Linked DNA regions of Homo sapiens. The protein of the gene in region 3 purifies or fractionates together with the protein of the main gene of each other region. This does not show direct contact. Each region holds a gene or a part of one and is shown on either strand. Other genes may lie near its edges.

The links.
Region 1: the proteins of GAD1 (region 3) and FGFR1 purify together in Homo sapiens (affinity purification with mass spectrometry; 2 studies listed by BioGRID and IntAct, with this or other methods). This does not show direct contact.
Region 2: the proteins of GAD1 (region 3) and BLK purify together in Homo sapiens (affinity purification with mass spectrometry; one large-scale study listed by BioGRID and IntAct). This does not show direct contact.

Annotation. Positions count from the first base shown.
Region 1 is NC_000008.11:38,427,009-38,430,738, forward strand, and holds part of FGFR1 (fibroblast growth factor receptor 1 isoform 1 precursor), read right to left. Parts: intron 2,941-3,730; coding exon 2,674-2,940; intron 1,428-2,673; coding exon 1,338-1,427; intron 1,086-1,337; coding exon 913-1,085; intron 1-912. UniProt on the Homo sapiens protein: Tyrosine-protein kinase that acts as a cell-surface receptor for fibroblast growth factors and plays an essential role in the regulation of embryonic development, cell proliferation, differentiation and migration.
Region 2 is NC_000008.11:11,549,887-11,553,386, reverse strand, and holds part of BLK (tyrosine-protein kinase Blk), read right to left. Parts: intron 3,229-3,500; coding exon 3,125-3,228; intron 902-3,124; exon of another isoform or gene 1-901. UniProt on the Homo sapiens protein: Non-receptor tyrosine kinase involved in B-lymphocyte development, differentiation and signaling. B-cell receptor (BCR) signaling requires a tight regulation of several protein tyrosine kinases and phosphatases, and associated coreceptors.
Region 3 is NC_000002.12:170,830,351-170,834,080, forward strand, and holds part of GAD1 (glutamate decarboxylase 1), read left to right. Parts: intron 1-599; coding exon 600-842; intron 843-3,730.

The DNA.
Region 1 (3,730 bases), on a different chromosome or scaffold from region 3:
AGGCAGGAGAATGGCATGAACCTGGGAGGTGGAGCTTGCAGTGAGCCAAGATGGCACCACTGCACTCCAGCCTGGGTGACAGAGTGAGACTCCGTCTAAAAAAAAAAAAAAAATGCTTACACCCTTTAAGTTAGTAATTTCACTTGTAACAATCTGTCCTAAGGAAGCACGCTTAAAAAAATGCTGACAGAGATTCACTGCAACATTATTTATTATGGTGAAAAACCAGAAAATACCTAATATCACAAAATAGTTCATTAAATTATAGGACTTTTTCTGTTGTTTTTTGGAGACAGAGTCTCACTCTGTCACCCAGGCTAGAGTGAAATGACGTGATCTCAGCTCACTGCAACCTCTGTCTCCTGGGTTCAAGCAATCTCCTGCTTCAGCCTCCCCAGTAGCTGGGATTACAGGAGCCTGCCACCACACATGGCTAATTTTTTGTATTTTTAGTACAGAGGAGGTTTCGCCATGTTGCCCAGGCTGGTCTCGAACTCCTGAGCTCAGGCAATCCGCCCACCTCGGCCTCCCAAAGTGATAGGATTTTAGGCGTGAGCCACCATGCCCAGCCAAATTATGGGATTTTAAAATAATGGAATCTTATACAGTCATGAAAAATTATGTTTCAAATATTCATGCTTGAAATATATCAGGAAAAGACTCATGTTAACAAATGACAAGGCAAGGAAATTACATACATGATGTGATCAACTATGTAAAAACCATATTACAGAAAGAAGACTGAAGAAATGTTTAAACTTTATTTGCATTTTTTTGTATTTAAAAATTTTAATGAATAACCTGTATAGGTGGAAAGTATTACTTAAAAAAATGAAAAGCATGTAATCAGGACTTCCTAACTCGGCCTCCCCTGTTCCCATTACTCTAACTTTCGCATGCACACACACGTACCTTGTAGCCTCCAATTCTGTGGTCAGGTTTGAATTCTTTGCCATTTTTCAACCAGCGCAGTGTGGGGTTTGGGGTCCCACTGGAAGGGCATTTGAACTTCACTGTCTTGGCAGCCGGCACTGCATGCAATTTCTTTTCCATCTTTTCTGGGGATGTCCAATATGGAGCTACGGCTGCCCGGGGAAAGCCAAGAGAGACAGGCAGGGTGGAGAGGAGCAGCTGGTCAGGCTCAGGAGCAGGGCCCAGGCCAGGACCTGGAGGTGTCTTGCCCATCTGCCCAACACCTGTGAGCAGTGCCTGGCACTTAGCAGAACAGGCACCGTGACCCCATGTGCCCTCCTCTTCCTCCCCTTTCAGCCTTCCCCTCCCCTCTTAAACCCAATGCCCAGACCCAAAGGGCAGTAAGATAGGAAACAGTGTCTCACGCATACGGTTTGGTTTGGTGTTATCTGTTTCTTTCTCCTCTGAAGAGGAGTCATCATCATCATCATCATCCTCCGAGGAGGGGAGAGCATCTATGGGAAGAAGAAGGGGCACTGAGGTTCCTCCTAGGGACCCCTAGATTTCACCAAGGCTAGTGCAGTTCCAGATGAACACGGACACCCTCCCCATGGGGATCCCAGTCCCACTGCTCCCTTAGTGATGATCTCTTGGTGGGATGGAAACTGTTTAAGAACAGTTCCTGTGCGTGTTTGCTTCCTTCCCCGAAGCACTGCCCCCACTGCCTGGAAGCCTTCACACTGGGTGGTTCCATCAGGGTCAGCTGTTCCTATTTAACTTAATTCCGTCCTACATTCAAAGGCGCTTTCTCAACTTGTGGTGCCACCTGGGTGTGCTGGAGCCAGGCAACCTGTATTCTTCTTTGGACGGCTGACTATAGGGAAACCCAGGCAGGTCTAGACACACTGTGGCTAGATGCTATTTCCAAAGGATGGGCTAAACACCCCACAGTCAGAATTTTTCTAGCATGTGTCTACTAAGGTTTGGGGGCTGCCCTCCTTAATCAGAGCAGATAGGGCACCCACCACCCCAGCAGCTGCCAACACCTCTCCCCAATAAGTATTTATTTCTTGTAAGAACACGCTTGATACACATGTGGTCACCCATCAGGGTTCATGCCAGATCTTTCTCCAGTCCTTCCTATCACCTTTGGGGATCTGCTGCCAAGTCCACACCCTGAGGTGCATAAATGGCATAAAGAAAATTTCAGCTCCACTTCCTCAACTCCTAGTTTTGTGAAAGTCACATTCTAAGAGTGGCAAGTTCCCAAGTTCACAGAGCTCCAGGGCTCCCTGGCTGCCCTCGCACAGCTCCCTTGCGGTGCACCTGGGTTCCTCTCCAGCAGAGCAGGGATACCACCACCTGTTCAGGGCCTCTAATCACTAAGCCGAGTACCAAGTCCAAATGGCAAGGGAGTGATGGAGTGGAAGCTGGCCGAGCACCACTTAGCCTCCTGGAGATCTGGGCAAGCTGTGGTGGAAAAAAATCACAGGGTCTTAACATCCCAAGAGCCCTGGCAATCACCTCCGAGGTGTGTCCTGGAAGCCCCAGATCTCCGGCCCTGGGGCCCACCCCACCTAGTCACCTCTCTGAGAGCCAAGCCACGCGGCAGGCAGGGAGCAATGTTAGTGGGCAGCAGTTTCTGAAGCAGAGTGGGGGCAGATCACGGAGGGGGAGGAGGTTCACCTTCCTCTGAAACTGGCAGAGAGGGCTGGAGGGGGTGGGTCTAGGGAGGGGCAAGGGCAGGGCTTGGCTACCAACCTGAAACATTGACGGAGAAGTAGGTGGTGTCACTGCCCGAGGGGCTGCTGGTTACGCAAGCATAGAGGCCGGAGTCTGCGGGCACGGAGTCCTGCACCTCCACCTCCTCCCCTGTGATGCGGGTGCGGTTGCTTTCCGCCAGCTGCACCCCGTCCCGCAGCCAGTTGATGCTCTGCACATCGTCCCGCAGCCGACAGCGAAGCTGCAGCAGGTCACCGGGGTGGACCAGGAAGGACTCCACTTCCACAGGGGCTCCCCAGGGCTGGGCTGCAGCCACCACGGGGCCGGGAAGGGAAGCCAAGGGGCGAGAGAGGAAGACAGGGAGAGGGGAGGAGGGGAGAGACAAAGGGAATTACGCTGGCCACACGGAGCCGCACCATCCTGGGCATCACTTACTGGAGGCTACTGAGCCAGGGCAGTGGGAATTGGAGCATGGGTCAGTGGGGAAAACAGCTGGCTGCCTGGGAACCCCCATCTCTTTTCCACCCCACTCCTCCAAAAGTCAAAGGAAGAAAGAGGCAAAGTTAGGAAGCAGCTGTAGCAGCATTAAGCGCATTTCATTTCCCCCATCCTAAGGGGAAAGGTCGGCCCTCCCCAGGACTTCTTTGTGTCCGGAGTTGCCCCCTCCCCAGATGCTCAGTTCTTTGCCAAGATTGCCACTTGCCAGAGGAACACCCCATTTCCTTTGGGATAGCTCAGCCTCACCCTTCCCTAGCAACAGCTGAACAAACCCCGCCCCTCAAAACCCCAGCAGCCCCTGCCCAAGTCGAGAGAAGGCAATTTGTCAACTGGGGGCTGACCAGGATGCGTGTGATTCGGAGAGGGTGGGGGTCTGGCCCTCGACGCGTCAGATGCACATGCTGGGGGGGCAGCCCAAGGAGAGGTCAGCTCAGGGAACCTCTCGCTAACAGGTGTCAGGGCAGGGGATTTGGAGCTGTTGACTATATTAGGACGGGAGGCCACAGCTGCCATAAAACCCACACTTGCTCTGGCAGCAGGAGCTGTCGCACACAAAGGTCCTTTCTCCTCAGCCCTCTGACTGGGCACACCCTCAGGC
Region 2 (3,500 bases), on a different chromosome or scaffold from region 3:
GGATCCCCTGCCTCTGTGGTATGTCTGGACTGCCCTGGGCAGGCAGGGCCTGGCTCTGAGATGAAGATTTCTCAGCACTGAAGGACCGCCTGCCTTTGAGCTGTGAAACTAGTCTATCCTCACATAGACACCAGTAAACTGAGGCTTGAGAGGCTCAAGGACACCCCGGAGGCCACGAAGGGTAGAACTCACTCCCCTGCTTCCATCCCTGTCTTGCATTCACTGCTGTGGCTCGGAGAAGCAGAGGGGTCTTGCTTTGGAGTTGTGTGTGTGTGTGCATATGTACGTGTAAGGTGTGTACATGTGTTGCACACGTGTTCATTGCATCTGTGCATATGTGCACATGTATATGTGTGCGTGTGTGTGTATATGTGCATGCGTGGACATGTGTATGTGTTTGCATGTGTATGTGTGCACACATGCCTGTGTATGCACATGTGTGTATATGTGTGCATTTGTGCATATGTGCATGTGTGTTCATGTGTGCATGTGTATGTGCGTGTGGTGGTGATGATGGTTGAACAGTCCTGCAGCCCTGGTCCCATATGGCCTATTCCCAGCTTGGACTGGCTTCCTGGGGTGGACATGGACAGGAAAAGATGCCAGACTCATAGAGAACCCCTTCTTCCTCCACACCAGATTGGGCAGGGGGTGGGGAGGCTTTCACCTTAGCAATAGGCAATGGTTGAAATATCATTTCCAGGGTGACATGACATGATGTTTGGGATTTACTTCGAAAGAACAGGGGTGGAGCGGGAGATACAGATGAAACAAGACTGGCTCAGTTGATAATTGTTGAAGCTGGCTGTTGGGTACCAGGGGTTCCACTAAACTATTTTCTCTACTTCTGTGTATGTTTGAAATGTCCTGGAACAACAATAAAACACTTATGTCATCTCCAGTGATTCCCAAATTATTTCTTGTACAGAGGTGCTCTGCCACAAAAATGAAATAGTGACAATATCCAATATGAATATAAATATAAAATGCATATATCTATGTGTATGTATATGTATGTATATGCATTCATTGGCATATTCCAAGAAATCCTGCACAGAGCACCCCAGCTTTCCAATGCACCCTTCCTGCTCCCCAACCTGGTCCTGCCCCTTTGTGGGGCACCAAGGCCTCATGATGTCCCCAGAGAATCACAGGGTGCTATGACAGCTTTTCATACTCTGGGTTTCCACTCTGGCTGCTGTTCTTGAGCCACAGATGGAACCAATGGACAGCCCAAGGGTGCTCCCACCAGGTGACAACTCTGTCCATTCTCATCGCCCCAACCACAGGGAACCAGACTCATATTCCAGACACTCTCTCTCCCTTTCCTCCTCTGATGTCACTGTCACCATCTCCTCTCCAGTTAAAATTGGCTACAAGGCTGTACCTGGTCCCTGTGGACAGCTTCCTGATGAGCAAAGCATTCTTCATACTGCCTGGGAAGCCCCTGGGTCACCCTAGCTTGCCACGTTGTAGAGCTTGGGAAGCCTCTCAGCCTCTTAGATGATGTGGTCACTGGTGCTTTGGGCTCTGATGCTTACTGTTGGCCCCCAGCAAGTCACTTCCTGTTTCAGGGACTCCCTTTCCTCATCTGTCAAGTGGATTAGTATCTTACAGACGAAAAGCTAGTGGCCAGTGAGCACCAGGGACCATAATAGGGTTCGGTGCAACACATGCATTAACAGCCCCAAACTGGAAACAACTCAATGCCCACAACATGAGAATGGCTAACTTGACTCTGGAATGGTCACACCCGGGATTCTGTATAGCAATGAACATGAACAGGCTCACCATCCTCAACCACATGAATGAATCTGTTACTGGTTGAATCATGTGCGCTCCCAATTCATATGTTAAAGTCCTAACCCTCGGTCCTGAGAATGTGGCTATATGTGGAGACAGAGCCTTTAAAGGGGTGATTAAGTTAAAATGAGGTCATATGGGTGGGCCCTAATCCAAATTGACAGGTGTCCTTACAAGAAGAGATTAGGACACAGACATGCATGGAGGGACGGCCACGTGAGGACACAGAGAAGACGGCCATCGGCAAGCCAAGGAGAGAGCTCCCGGGAGGAGCCAACGCTGCTGACACTTTGGTCGTGGACTTCCAGCCTCCAGAGCTGTGAGATAATAAGCTTCTGTGGTGGAAGCCACCCAGTCTGTGCCACTTTGTTACGGCAGCCCAGGAAACTAACATAGAATCCCACAAACACTGCTGAGTGACAGAAGCAAGACACACAGAAACAAAAACAGTGATTCTATCTACATCAAGCTGAAAAAACAGACAAGACATGGTGGCGAAACCACAGAGAAGAGCAAGGAAGGATTTCCATCCAAGTCAGGACAGCAGGTAGCTCTTGAGGGTGGGGGTTGAATCAGGAAGGAGCCCAAGTGGGGGAGTGAGGGGGCTCCTGGTGGTCTGGGATGCTCTTTCTCTTGGCTGTCATTACACAGGGATTTGTTTATTATTACCCTATATGATTTAGAATTACACATTCATACTTCATGCAAGCTTTATATGTGTTTTATATTTTACACCAAAAAAATTAAGAAGGAAAGAAAGCCAAATGACAGAGAAAGAGAGAAAACCCCTGAGGGTGATGGCAGCTGTTTTGCTCAGTCAGTGGATTTGAACTCATGAGTGTCTAGACTGGCATGGGCTCCCCTCAATTACCACCCTCTTCTCTTACATCACGGCACAGGCCACTTCCTAACATATGCTACCTGCAGCCTCTGGCTGAGATGATCTTGAAGGATTCTTTGAGCTCCCCCTAATCCTTGATTCCAAAGAGGCTGGTGGTTAAGGGCTCAGGGTTCCCCCTTCCCTGGCCCCCACTGGCCTCGGTGTTCCTGCTGACTGGGCAGCAGGGCCAGTCTGGCGTGGGACCACCCCTGTCCACCCGGCTTCCTGTGCCCAGGTGGTTTCCAGCCGGGACAGGGAGGACTGTGTGGACAGCCCCCATGTCAACTCCCGGGCAGGGCCTGAATTGGGAGGGACACAAGCCCGGAAGCTGCTGGTTCTCCTGGCAGTCACCCCTTCCCCTCTCACTCCAGGGCCAGGCCTCTGGAGGCGCCTTCCCGGGAGGAGCAGGGCAAGGAAGGCAGGCAAAGCCACCAAGCCTACCTTTGTTGGTTTCACTCTCTCTGATAAGAAAGGAGCCGGCCTTGTTGATTGGAGCAAGAAGCTGCCTCTCAGCCTCCTTCCGACCCTGTGATCTAAAGAACCACCTGGAAAACGGCAGGAACAGGTGAAACTCAGAGCGACCCTGCTCCTCGGAGTATTCCCACACAGCCTCCCTCCTGCACTGCCTGTCCCCAAGAAATAAAAATCTAGCATTTCTGGTCCCAGTCGGCCCTGAGCTGCTGCTCCTCACACCGTGATGGAGTCAGTGCCCTCTGCCCCGCTGCCCTTCCAGTTCCGCTTCCTGTCAGCCCTGGACTCACTGTTTTCCTAGAACGAAACAAGAACACTAGTTGGTTGACCTTTGTTAATTTTGCTT
Region 3 (3,730 bases):
AGCCTGTCACCCAAAGTCACCTCTGGATATCTCAAAGTCCAGGCCCAAAAGGGTGGGGTCAAGAAAGAGGCAGGGGTTCCCTGTCCCACCTTCTTGAGCCCCATCTTCCAGCTCCAGTTTCCTGTCGAAGGACACCGCCAAGGACCACCCTCCTCAGGGGGAACCCCAGCCTCTACCCACAGAGGCCTTACCCTCTGATGCCAACAGACCAAGCACATCACAACACCAAACCAGATAGACAGGGACACACCTGGTCCCAGGGGAGCACGACAGATGCCCCCTCCATCACACTCCTCACAGGTGCCCATTCAACCTGCAGATGACAACCGCAGTCGCAGGTTGTTCACGGCGTCTCAGAGCACTTCATTCCATGTCTGAGCAGCCTGTCAGAAAGGCTGTGAACCCCCAGGAAGCATGTGCAAAACTTCTGTGTATGTGCATTTTTCTGGAGATGTGGTATATCCGATTCTCAGTGCACATACATATCCCAGAATGAAATCAGGCCTATACAGATAGCATGGTTAATATTAGGGGTCTCTGGGCTGAAGAAATCTAGATATGAGTCAGGTGAAAACCATTCATTGCTCTCCCCAATTCAGATCTGCTTCCGGCTAAGAACGGTGAGGAGCAAACCGTGCAATTCCTCCTGGAAGTGGTGGACATACTCCTCAACTATGTCCGCAAGACATTTGATCGCTCCACCAAGGTGCTGGACTTTCATCACCCACACCAGTTGCTGGAAGGCATGGAGGGCTTCAACTTGGAGCTCTCTGACCACCCCGAGTCCCTGGAGCAGATCCTGGTTGACTGCAGAGACACCTTGAAGTATGGGGTTCGCACAGGTAAGGAGGAGAGTTGGGTAGACAGGTAGTGGCAACTTTGCCCTCCATCTCACCCTTGCCAGTTGTGAGGATATCAAACTTGTGTTGGAAGAAAAACACAGCCCTGGTGAGATAAGGCGGCAAAGTACCCAGTGACCACAAGAACAAGCTTGGGCAGTAACAGTTGGTGGAGGGACCCGACCCAGGCAAAAGTTCATCAGCATATATCATGGTAAAAGTAGATAAAAAAGATATAAATGCTTGGTGCTAGGTCAAGTTCTGTATAAAGAGTTTTCATTCTGGCCAAGCACAATGGCTCATGCCTATAATTCCAGCATTTTGGGAGGCCAAGGTGGGCAGAACACTTGAGCTCAGGAGTTCGAGACCAGCCTGGGCAACATGGCGAAACCTTGTCTCTACATATGTGTGTGTGTGTGTGTGTGTGTGTGTGTGTGTGTGTGTGTATATACCTATTTTTATATATAAATATTTATATATAAATATTTAATATAATAAATAAATAATAATTATAAATAATAAAATTTAAAAATAATAAATTATAAATAATAAATATAAAAATAATATATAAATATTTATATATAATATTTATATTATATATTATATATAAATATAAATTATATAATATTTATATATATATGAAAATGAGCTGGGCATGGTGGCGTGCACCTGTAGTCCCAGCTACTCAGGAGGCTGAGGCCAAGAGGCAGAGGCTGCAGTGAGCCAAGATCGTGCCACTGCACTCCAGCCTGGGCAATAGATTGGGACCCTATCTCAAAAAAAAGAATTTTCATTCTTGGATTTAGGCTATTCACAACCTAAAGAGAGCAGAATGACCCATCCTCTGCTTCTTTTCTTGCCTCCATTTTCAGGTCTATTTCATTCTGATAAATCCTGCCCTTGCCTGTCCCTGACACTGGGGAGAATTGGGCTATTTCCTCTCCCTTTCTGTATTAGTTTCCTAGGAATGCCATTATAAATGACCACAAATTGGATGGCTCAAAACAATAGAAATTTGTTCTCTCACAATTCTGGAGGCTAGGAGTTTAAAATCAAGGTGCTGGCTATGCTCTCTCTGATGGCTCTTGGAGAGGATCCACCCTTGTCTTTACCAGCTTCCAGGTGTTGTGGATATTCCTTGGCATTTGTTGGCTTGTAGATGCATCGCTCCAACCTCTGCCTTCACTTCACATGGCCTTCATCCTGTGTGTGTGTCCAAATTTCTCTCTCCTTATAAGAATGCCAGTCGTTGGATTAAGGCCCACCCCAATCCAGCATGACCTCATCTTAACATGATTACATCCGCAAAGACCCGATTTCCAAATAAGGTCACATTCACAGGAACCAGGGATTAGGACTTGAACATATCTTTTTGAGGAACACAATTCAACCCATGACACCTTTTACCAGCTAGGCCAAAAAGACACATGCACACACAGGCCAAAAAGACACAGGCACACATGCGCGCGCGCGCGCACACACACACACACACACACACACACACACATACACACATGCCTTCTCATTCTACTGCAACTTCTGGAACTTAGGACACTCTGAGTCACCAAATTCTATTTCCAGTGGGAGTCCTTGAGGATGTCCTCTTGCCTCCTTTTCTTGTTCCAGGAGCTCTCTCTAATCAGCAATCCTCATCAAAGCAGTTGCTTTCCAATTGCCTCCAGTTCAAGGACTTTGGGGCCTCTGTCTGAGATGCTTAGAAACAGCTCAGACTGTGGACTAAGCCCAGGAGTGACACAGTGGTTTCTTCTCCCTATAACTCTCTCCACACTACAGTCTGGCTTTCCTGAGCTCTCAGGCAGACAGATCTAGAATAATTGACAGTCCCTAGCTTAGTTGCCACCACAGGGGAAGCCCCAAGGCCACAACTGGCAATCCTGTGTTCTTTCTTCTTCTTTGTCTCTCCTTCTTTATTTTCCCTCTCATTCTTCCTCGTCATTTGAAGATAGATTTAAGACTGAGACTAGGAGGCTGGTGGTGATAGAGCTGAGTAAGACTATTGGATGTCAAAAACAAAGTGTTATAATGAAATAATGATGCTGGCCAAAGATGCTTTTTAAAATGAGGAATCCCAGAGAGCTGCTGAGGTCTGCCAACACCACTGGAATAAGTGCAGCTTCATTAAATGACTGATGGATACACAAGACTCAGTTATATGTACAAAATTTATGTTGTTTGATTTTTAAAGAAAAGCACTCTATCAATTTACATTTAGTTACTTCTCATCTTGGTCAGATGGCTAATATATTCCTAATGGAAAACAAATAGTGTTATTCGGCTGCATTTTAAAAAGAGTCAGAATTCCCCATGTATGTTTAGCTTGACTTGCTTTGGTGTGATATTTTGAACTTTGCCAGTTTGCTCTACATGCGCTTTCTCAGAGAGATGAGAACTACATCATTTTATTATGAAAGCCCAGAATGGCGTTGTCCCTCAAATAAAAATACATGATTTTGTCATAATATCAACTAATATTATCTACAAAACCAAAGCATCTTGTGGTCAGAGAAAGCACTGACGGGCCTGGCCTGGTGGCTCACACTCGTGATCCCATCACGTTGGCAGGCTGGCAGGTGGATCACGCGAGCTCAGGAGTTCAAGACTAACCTGGGCAAAACCCCATCTCTACCAAAAATACAAAAATTAGCTGAGCGTGGTAGTGTGCACCTGTGATCCCAGCTACTCTGGAGGCTGCAGTGGGAGGATCACTTGAGCCCGGGAGGCGGAGGTTGCAGTGAGCTGAGATTGTGCCACTGCACCACTCCAGCCTGGGTGACAGCAGGACCCTGTTTCAAAAAAAAAAAAAGAGAGAGAGAGAGAGAAAGCATTGACTTTCATTAGTCCAGTGTATGAACCCACTTAGGTACTTAGCC